Linked DNA regions of Homo sapiens: region 1 is linked to region 2. Evidence: fine-mapped QTL for protein levels in blood plasma. Region 2 holds a variant in brackets. A gene starts in the other region. All regions are shown on their reverse strands.

Region 1 (4,529 bases), not on the chromosome of region 2:
ATAACTTTAACTCTGATTTTTTTTGCCTTTTTCCCTTTAATGGACTTAGATGATCTTTTTATGTAATATCTTTAATTTGTTATCATTAGTTTTATATGACATATTCTTACTCATACCTCTTTTCGATTAGAGTCAGAGTAAACTTATGCCTGTTAAGTTTAAGACTCAGCATACTAGTCCCCACTTAACTTAGAATAATTTGAGCATGAAATAGGAGAATATGCAAGCAACCATGAGAATTGCTCAAAATTGACTACAGGCATTTTCAAAAACAGTTAATGACCTAATCATTATTTTTTAAAATACTGAGAGTCACAATATTAATCATAATGAACTCCTTTAAGCTCCCTGTAATGGTCATAAGTACTTCTGTAATTCTGTTGCAATTCAACAGTAATCGATGATATCTGCATTAATTTTTAAATTTGACTATTTGTCTATAATTTTAAATGCTAGTATTCTAATGAACATCTACTTCTTTCATCCTTATTTCCACAGTCGTAATTGAGAATCAAAGTAGAAGTATTGACCCTCTAAATGATTTTCTCTTTTAAATTAAGAAACAAATGAATGAAATGTAGGTAAGGCATTGAACATACAACAGTTTAAAAGTTTTTTGCTTCTCACCTGCATTTAAATTACCACATGAAATTGTATTTTTCTTGGGAGAACAGTTCTAAGATTTAAAAGTAATATAATTCTAAAATATTTAGTGGATTCTGGTTCTTTCGCAAATAAATATAGTTGAAACAACTTATTGTTCAGGTCATCAGAGTAATTCTCAGGTTTGTGTATGTGCAAATTGATATTCTCTTCCGTATATCTCCCTACAAAACATGGTAAGGATGTCTGAACATAATTTTTTAATCTATCACAATCCTATACAACCTTTAGAAAAAAGCTCAGCATAATCCAAGATACAGTTTTTCTCAGTCTCACGAACTTTGTAGAACTCCACTTATAGAGCATCCCTACTGAATTTTAACAAGTTATTGCAATGCCAGATGCCCAATTATTTAGTCTCGGAAACTCATTGCTCAAACATAAGGCATACATTCAGTACCTGAGAACGGCATCCTATTTTCCAAACATTTAGTTTCTTTTGTAGAAACATCCTCACTTTATCCTGGCATTTATTGCCTTACAATTTGCAATTTGCGTGTAGGAATTGCTTACTCTTATTTTGGGTGGCATTAGGAGATATACAAATAGGTTATATTTACTCTTGTTTCAACTTTTTGCCATAAAATCCCAGCAGGAAATAAAGTCGTGTTTTGTTTCCTTTATTTAAAAAAGCTTCATCTTACAGTTTTTACATTCTGGCAACATGGCAAGAAAGGATGGCTTTGCAGAACAGAGTGTGTCAAAAATCCTAAGTGGCTGGGAGATGAAGTGCACAATCACAGAACGCAGTCACTGGCAAAGGAATGTCAGCCACTTACCAATAAGATGCCAGACTCCACTGTCCTTCCTCTGTGACTCTCAATTCCTGTCTCCCATCCTCCTGCCCATCAGCACAGTTCAGAGAGAGCGGTTCCTCGGGTCCTTTGCAGCCTGTGGCAGAGGCGAATTGCGGAGTTCTTAATCATTCAGAGGGAATCCTCCAGCTTGCCCTGCCTCTCGCAGCAGACGGGACCCAGGTAACGCATCCTCTCCGCCCCGAGCTTTAATGGCACTTTGGCTGCCGCCTTCTCGCAGTTCCGCTCCCCCACGCCGTAGTTGGTTATATTGGGAAGTAGGTGCGGCGCCTCCTGCGGCTGGTGTGTTTGGGGCTCGCGTGTTTTCCTCCAATGCGTCCGCGCGCCCTGCGCCCCGCGCCTCTGACTGGCTGTGTCCTCCCGGGGCGGCCCCTCGCCCCTCCCCGGCCGCCCGCGCTGTCACCGGCGCCCGCGTCCAGCGCCTCACTGCCTCTTGCTGCAAAGGTTCATTGAGCATGTCCCTGGGCTTAACGAACTGTGCGCCTCCCGGAGGGTGCTCTGTGTTTCTCCACTCGTCTCACTAGTCAACCGGCATTTTCCTTCCCTGCTAAGTACAGAGGACCTGCCCCCCTTCCCCGAGCGTTTCTGCTCTGCAACCCCTCCGTATTTAACATTCATAGATTACAAAGCAAACGTGCTGGCTGGAGTCGGCACGGGAGATCCAGGCGAGAGTCCCTTCCTCCGCTCCTGTCTTCACTCTGATTCCTGTAGTCCCCGGCTCACACCTCTGACAGCAGCAGCACAGACTGACGCGTTCACTTAGGTCGGTTTGAGAGTGGACTTTTTCACTTTGCAGAATTTTCTTAAGTCCTGAATGGGAAGCACTTCTCTTTTGTTTCTGCACTTACGCGTTTCATCTAAGGACTATCAGGCTCTGCCTGTTTATATTTCTCTTTGATTTGGGGTGTTGACTCAGTTCTAAAAAAAAGCGAAGGAATGGTCTCAGCAACCTTTTTTTCGGAATTTTTATATTACAATGGCTGTAATTGGAAAAATAACACAGGTAGTAAATCCACAGTGTGGCAGCTTTAGTGCCATTGTTCTGCCAGTCCTCCTCTCTACTTTTTTTTTTTTTTTCCTCTCAGTCTTTGAGTCGTTTTCCAATTCCCACGATTGGGCTGATGGTAATTGGGTATTTGTTAAATAAATTATATAACATTTCCTTTGCAATATATTTCCATAGAGAATGTGGTTTGCACCTGTATTTAATGGAAAGGAAATCCCACGTACTGCTTTCTATCTCTGTGTCTGTATAAGAAACTGCATGGGAGTCTAGGGTCGCACCCCGTGTCCGCTGGTGTCCGTTTTTCATGTGTGTTTGAGAGCAGCCTGACCCTGGACTGACGCTGATTCTTCTGCTCACTGAATCCCCCGATGGGGTCTGACTGGCTCTAATTGGCAAGGAGAGTACAGTGCCAGGCAGCCTGTAGCTGGAAGCCGTCTACCACTAGCCCTGTGTTCTTTCTCTTGCAGTTTTTCTGGTAATTAAAATTAGTCTTTTCCTGTTTCTTGGCTGCTTCTCATTCATCCAATGATGTACAAACACCCAGTCTCTGCTTTTAATCGCTATCCTCAGGATCTAGGCTGATTGCTTGTTCTGTAGCAAAGACAAATTTGTGTGCATTTAATACTTCTCCACTCTTCCATACTTTTTATATTCGTGTTCCTGCTTTCCAGTAACTAGGTTATCTTCTTTATGTGTTAACTGAGGGATCGTTGTGGAGATTCCCCTTCTGTGGCTTTTTCTCTGCCCCACTGGCTCTTCTCCTCTGTCAGGCTGTCGGTTCACAGAGAGAACTACCAGGACTTTTATAACCACATTAAATACATCACAAAATAAATTCAAAGTGTAGGAGCTCTAACGCATTCTTTTTATTGTTCGATGAGGTTTTTGCCTTTAAAAGTGTATAATTGAGCACATGCAGCCTGAAAGAGGGATCGGGAGTGTAGAAAGCTTTCTGAAAGTTCTCTTCCCTTCTTAGAACACCATTCTATATTACCCATGATCCGATAATTTGGGCATTTTGAGTCATTATGTCACATAATTTCTTTCAACTAGCTTTGCCCTAGAAAGGATGTAAGTTGGCTTATAAAAATCTATTCAGTTTAAAAAAATGAATAAAAAATGTAGGTCAGTGAGATCAAGACAAACGGTAAAGTGATAGGAGGAGAGATAAGATGAAGCCAGAAATGAGGTTTATAGAGAAAACTGCATTGATGTTTTTGTTACAAATGGTGCTAGGTCTGCCATTAACTTTGTTAGCAGCCAATGTAAAGAAGGAAATGCTATCGGTCACATGATTCATGGTGCCCTCCTACCATTAACATGAACAAGAAAATTTACCTTTTACATGATGTAAATGGACTAAATATTTCTCCTTTCTTAAGCAAGAACTAAATAAAAGCTTTTAATGTTTCTACTTTTTATAAAGAGAGCAATATTATCACAAGACTATGGTGTGAATATATTTTTGAAACAAGTAGATAATGTAATAGCACTTTTCCTTGCGAAGTTATCTGATGCTTTAGAGGGAGAGAAAGGAAACGTTGAATCTGTTTAATTAAAAATAGTAAGGTCTATTTCTGTCAGTTCAAATTTAAAATGTTGACTTCAATCATTATTTGGGGGTGACTAGGTTACCTGGCTACACTTCATTCAGGACCCAGAAAGAGTGACTATATTTATTCTCATGTCTTTTATGACTTTTAATGTTCTAATTTGTAATAATATACAATTATATATTCCCTATTAATATCTATATATGTAACAGACAAACTGTTAGTCTATCTGACTCATCTTTCTTTAGAATTTTGCTGTTATGGAGTTAACTTATGTACTGTATATTTTTACAATTTTCTGCTTGGAGAGTAAGGGCTCTATAGATCAGGTACACTTCTGTATCCTTTTATATCCACAGTGTTCAGGTTTAAGCAGGTCAATGTCTGGAATTAGAGAAACAACAGTGCTTAAAATAAGAAACAAACAAACAAAACTCCTTGTTAGAGTTCCACTAAAAAGAAACAAACTACCTTGTGTTTTCCAAGTAAACA
Region 2 (4,000 bases):
ACAAGAAAATGTATGCAAAAGACTTAGCCCAGTGCTTGGCCCAAATTAAATGCTCAAAAGATCAGTACCTCACATTGGTGTTAGAAATTTGCTGAGTGTTAAATGAGATAATGCATATACAACTGAAAAAAAGGTATAATGTATATGTGATAGTTAAGGAAGGCAATGCCAGCTGCTGTAACAGATGCAATTGTCACTTCAGTGGTTTAACACAGTATAAGTTTATTTCTCACTAATGTTACAACCCACTGCTGGCATTTCTGGTTGGGCAATCTGCCTCCATGCGGTGACTCAGGCACTCAGGCTCCTTCTATCTTGTGGCTCTACCATTTTCAACACTTACTTTGAACTCTGTTCCATTCAGCAGGCAGGTGGGGAAAGAGAGACCGAGGAGACATACCTGCTTGTTAATCATTTCAGCCCTGAAGTGATGCACATCACTTTTTCTCACAGTCTTTTGGTCAGAGTTAGTCACATGGCCCTACCTAGATGCAAAGGAACCTGGGAAATGTAGTCCATGCATGATCAACTGCTGCCCAAGAAAAACTCTGGAAGGAAAGCAAGAATCCGTGGTGGTCACCTCTACTTAGTCCAGCACCCTCATTTCCAAGGGGTGACCTGGAAATGACTCAAGAGTTGGGTAGTGACCCAAGAGTGGGTTGGAGCTGGGGGTGTGTACAGGGTATGTCTCCTTTCCTTGAGCCAGGGGCGATGTTGGTGCTGGAGGCTGCATCATTCCCTAGACCAAGTTAGTCCAACCTGGTGCCTGCAGGTCGCGTGCAGCCCAGGATGGCTTTGAATGAGGCCCAACACAAATTTGTAAACTTTCTTAAAATATTATGAGTTTTTTTTTGCAAATTTTTTTTTTTAGCTCATCAGCCATCATTAGTGTTAGTGTATTTTATGTGTGGCTCGAGACAATTTTTTTCTTTTAATGTGGCCCAGGGAGCCAAAAAATGGGACGGCCCTGCCCTAGACAGAGGGTAACGACAATGATTCCCGTTGGAGCACTGGACACAGAGCAATGATTCCCGTTGGAGTGCCGGACACAGAGCAATGATTCCCGTTGGAGCACTGGACACAGAGCACTCCGTCCCTGTGATCACATCTAACCCCTAAATAGCCCCAACAGGGCATTTTCATTATTACCATCACTCATGTCATGCACAGGTGAGGAAACTGAGGCACAGCATGGCTCCATGCCTTGCCTAAGTTCTCACAGCAAGGCAGGAGCAGACCCAGGCCTTGAACTCAGATCTCAAGGTGAACACGGTCCTCTTGGAGGCCAGGGTCACACCAGAGGGTCCCACATGCAGGGACGGGGTAAAGGATTCTCCACTTGCCCCAGCAAATTTTCAGACACCAAGGCCTGTGGGACAAGGCCTGGCTGCTGTGAGGCTGAATAAGCAAACCAGTGGAAGAACAAAGAAGAATGGTTCTTTCTGGAACCTCTAGTTTGTTCTTTGAGCACATTAAATATGCCCCTGTAACCTTGCTGACTCTCTTCATTGGCTCTGTAAACCCTCAGTGGCTGTCGCGGGCATTTTTTGTACACACTGTATTTAACACAGAGCCAGATGCACCAAAGGGCTCAGCATATATTTGTTGAATAAAAGAAAGAAAGCCTCAAGGGAAAATTTATCTAAATTACAACGATTTTTCCATTTGTGCGTGCAGTTGTGGACTGTGGAGGTTGACAGAGCTCCTATGAAGTACTAGGCCCAACTTGGAGTCTTCTCATAGCCCTGGGAGGCAGGTCCCACTGATATCTCTGGTTAATAGACAGGGAAACGGAGGCACTCCCCTGTGGCTCTGCATTGGTCGAGCCGGCCTGATTCTTTGTCCCTCCCACTGTCTGCTGCCTGGCACTGCCTCTGAGTCACAAGAGGCTGAAAGTGACCTCTGGG[C/T]GTCTATAATTAGGCCCTGCCTGACGTCAGGGCAGACGGATTTTCTGGCTTGGCCAACGTCGGCCTATCGTTCACTGCGTGCCAGGCACTGAGTTAAGTCCATTACATGCATTCCCTGACACTTGCAGCAACCCCACTAGGCCCCCATTCTCCAAGGAGAAAACTGAGGCCCAGGAGGGTCATGCCCTGGCCTGAGGTTACTCAGCTGGGAGGAGGTTGAGGCTGGATTTGAGCATAGACCTCTGCAGCTCCGGTAGCCACCAGGCTCTGTCAGTGATCAGTGGTAGCTGTATATTTCTAGATCAAGGGAAGGTTTCAACTGAGCCAGCAGGACAGAGGTGTGCTGAGGCTTGGTGGGCACTGGCCATTCTCACCTCTGACCACTGGCTTCCTAGCTTACTCTGCTCCTTTTTCCTCTTTCTCTAATTTTTTCCCACCTCCTGGCCTTTGCACATGGCTTTGCCTTTGCCTTTGCCTGAAATGCCCTTCACCCATATCCTCCTGTGTCCAGCTCCTTCTTATCTATCAGGTTTCTGTGTAATTGTCACCTCCTCCAGGAAGTCTTCCCTGACCACACCTGCTTCCAGTCTGTTGAGTTATTTTCTTCTTTGAACTGATCTCCAGGTGAAATGATCTCTACCTGTTTATTGCTTGTTTCTTCAACTAGATGTGAACTACATGAGGGCAGACTGTGTCTCTCTTGTTCCTTATGTCTCCAGCCTCGGGGACTCAGCTTAGCACAAAGTAGTTGTCCTAAAAATAGTCGTTAAGTGAGTGACTAACTGAAGGTGAGGGCTTCCCGGGGCAAGAAGCCACCAGGTTGGATGAACAGGTGAACATCTATGGGGACAGAGCCTCAGGTTGCCTGTATGCCCCAGAGCGGGATCTCCGCCAGATGTAGGGGGTCAAGGAGTAGGATCCCGCCTCTTGGAGAGGGAGTCTGGGCTCTGTGCAACAGGGCACTGAGGACAGCCAGTCCAGGTCTGGGACAGTGTGGCCTCTCTTTTTGACATGGGGACATCAGACACTGGTGGCTCCTGGGTCAGAGCCAGTTCTGGATTGTGGCCTGGGTGTCCTGATAAGCCAACAGCCTTTGTCAGGCCGAGCTCCAGGGACCTGCCTGGTGGAGCAGGAAGGACTTGAAGGTGGGGTTGCCGGAAGGTGAGAGACAGGTGTGACCTGGGGTAGGGAAAGAGGGATGTTTGTCATGACTTGGCCTGGCTGCCTTCTTTCCCAAGGCCTGGCGTCTCCATCACGCAAGCTTGTTGAAGGAATGAATGAAGGTATCATCCTAGACAGACCCCAAACAAACAGGAGATGCTCAATCTGGTTCAGCGTGCTTCCTAAGAGTTAATGCTTCTTATTCTTATAACAACCCACGAGTTGGGTCCTATCATTATCCCCATTTTTACAGAGGAGAAAACTGAGGCACAGAGAAATGAAGAGATTTCCCCAAATTCACACAGCTGGGGCTGGGATTTGAACCTGGCCTTCTGGCTCCACAGCGTGATGCCTTTAACTGTCCACTGTACTGCTTGTTTTGGGCTAAAAGCCAAGACTAAAAGGCAGTGGTGTGTACACTTTTGAAACGGAGCCGAAGCTTTCCATGAGTGAATTCTTATTGCTCAGAAACCCTACGTGCAAAATACAGGCCATGGGAGCCTCCCTGACTGAAGTGGGAATTAGGGTTGCGAGACCGCCACACTCATTCATTCCCACATACCCCATCCCCGTCGTGTACCCTCTTCCCACGGGTTCTGCCTCCTACTTTTCTCAAGAATTTTCACATTCCTAAAAGCAGGAAACAGACAGAGTTGACCTTTCCATTGCTGTTGTTGCTAAACTCTTTCTCGGCCCCTAGAACTCTTATAAAGGATACCAATCTGGGGAAGGGGTTTATGAATGAGAGCCCCCTGCCCAGCATCCTCCCTCTTTGGAGGCCTCTGAAACCCCATTAGGGTCCCATGGGGTAAGGATGCGCTCAGGGATCCTGCAGGATTCGAACTTTCCAGGCATTGTATCTCCCTAAGACAATCTAAGATTTCTAAAGATATTTTTTCTTTTCATGGAGACATAATTTATATACAGTAATA

Which allele goes with the higher level. Alleles are on the strand shown, and positions count from the first base shown. The strength of an association depends on the size of the effect and on how common the allele is.
For the plasma level of the protein whose gene starts at base 1,764 in region 1, C is the high allele of the variant in region 2 and T is the other (strong association).

What was found. PIP is the posterior inclusion probability: the model's chance that the variant is causal. The UK Biobank Pharma Proteomics Project read protein levels with antibody pairs (Olink). The fine-mapping took linkage between variants from a reference panel, not from the people measured, so its PIPs are less certain.
Region 1: it holds the start of CNTN5, and the variant in region 2 is fine-mapped to the plasma level of the CNTN5 protein (UK Biobank, PIP above 0.99).

The regions. Positions count from the first base shown.
Region 1 is chr11:99,018,184-99,022,712 of GRCh38, reverse strand. CNTN5 (contactin 5) reads right to left here and starts at 1,764. Exons shown (of 25, transcript NM_014361.4): 1 at 1,443-1,764.
Region 2 is chr22:27,684,626-27,688,625 of GRCh38, reverse strand. The region is part of intron 4 of CPMER (cytoplasmic mesoderm regulator); the gene reads left to right. Among named protein-coding and RNA genes, the nearest start is that of CPMER, 28 kb to the left of the region's middle. The variant C/T (reference allele first, on the strand shown) is at 1,908.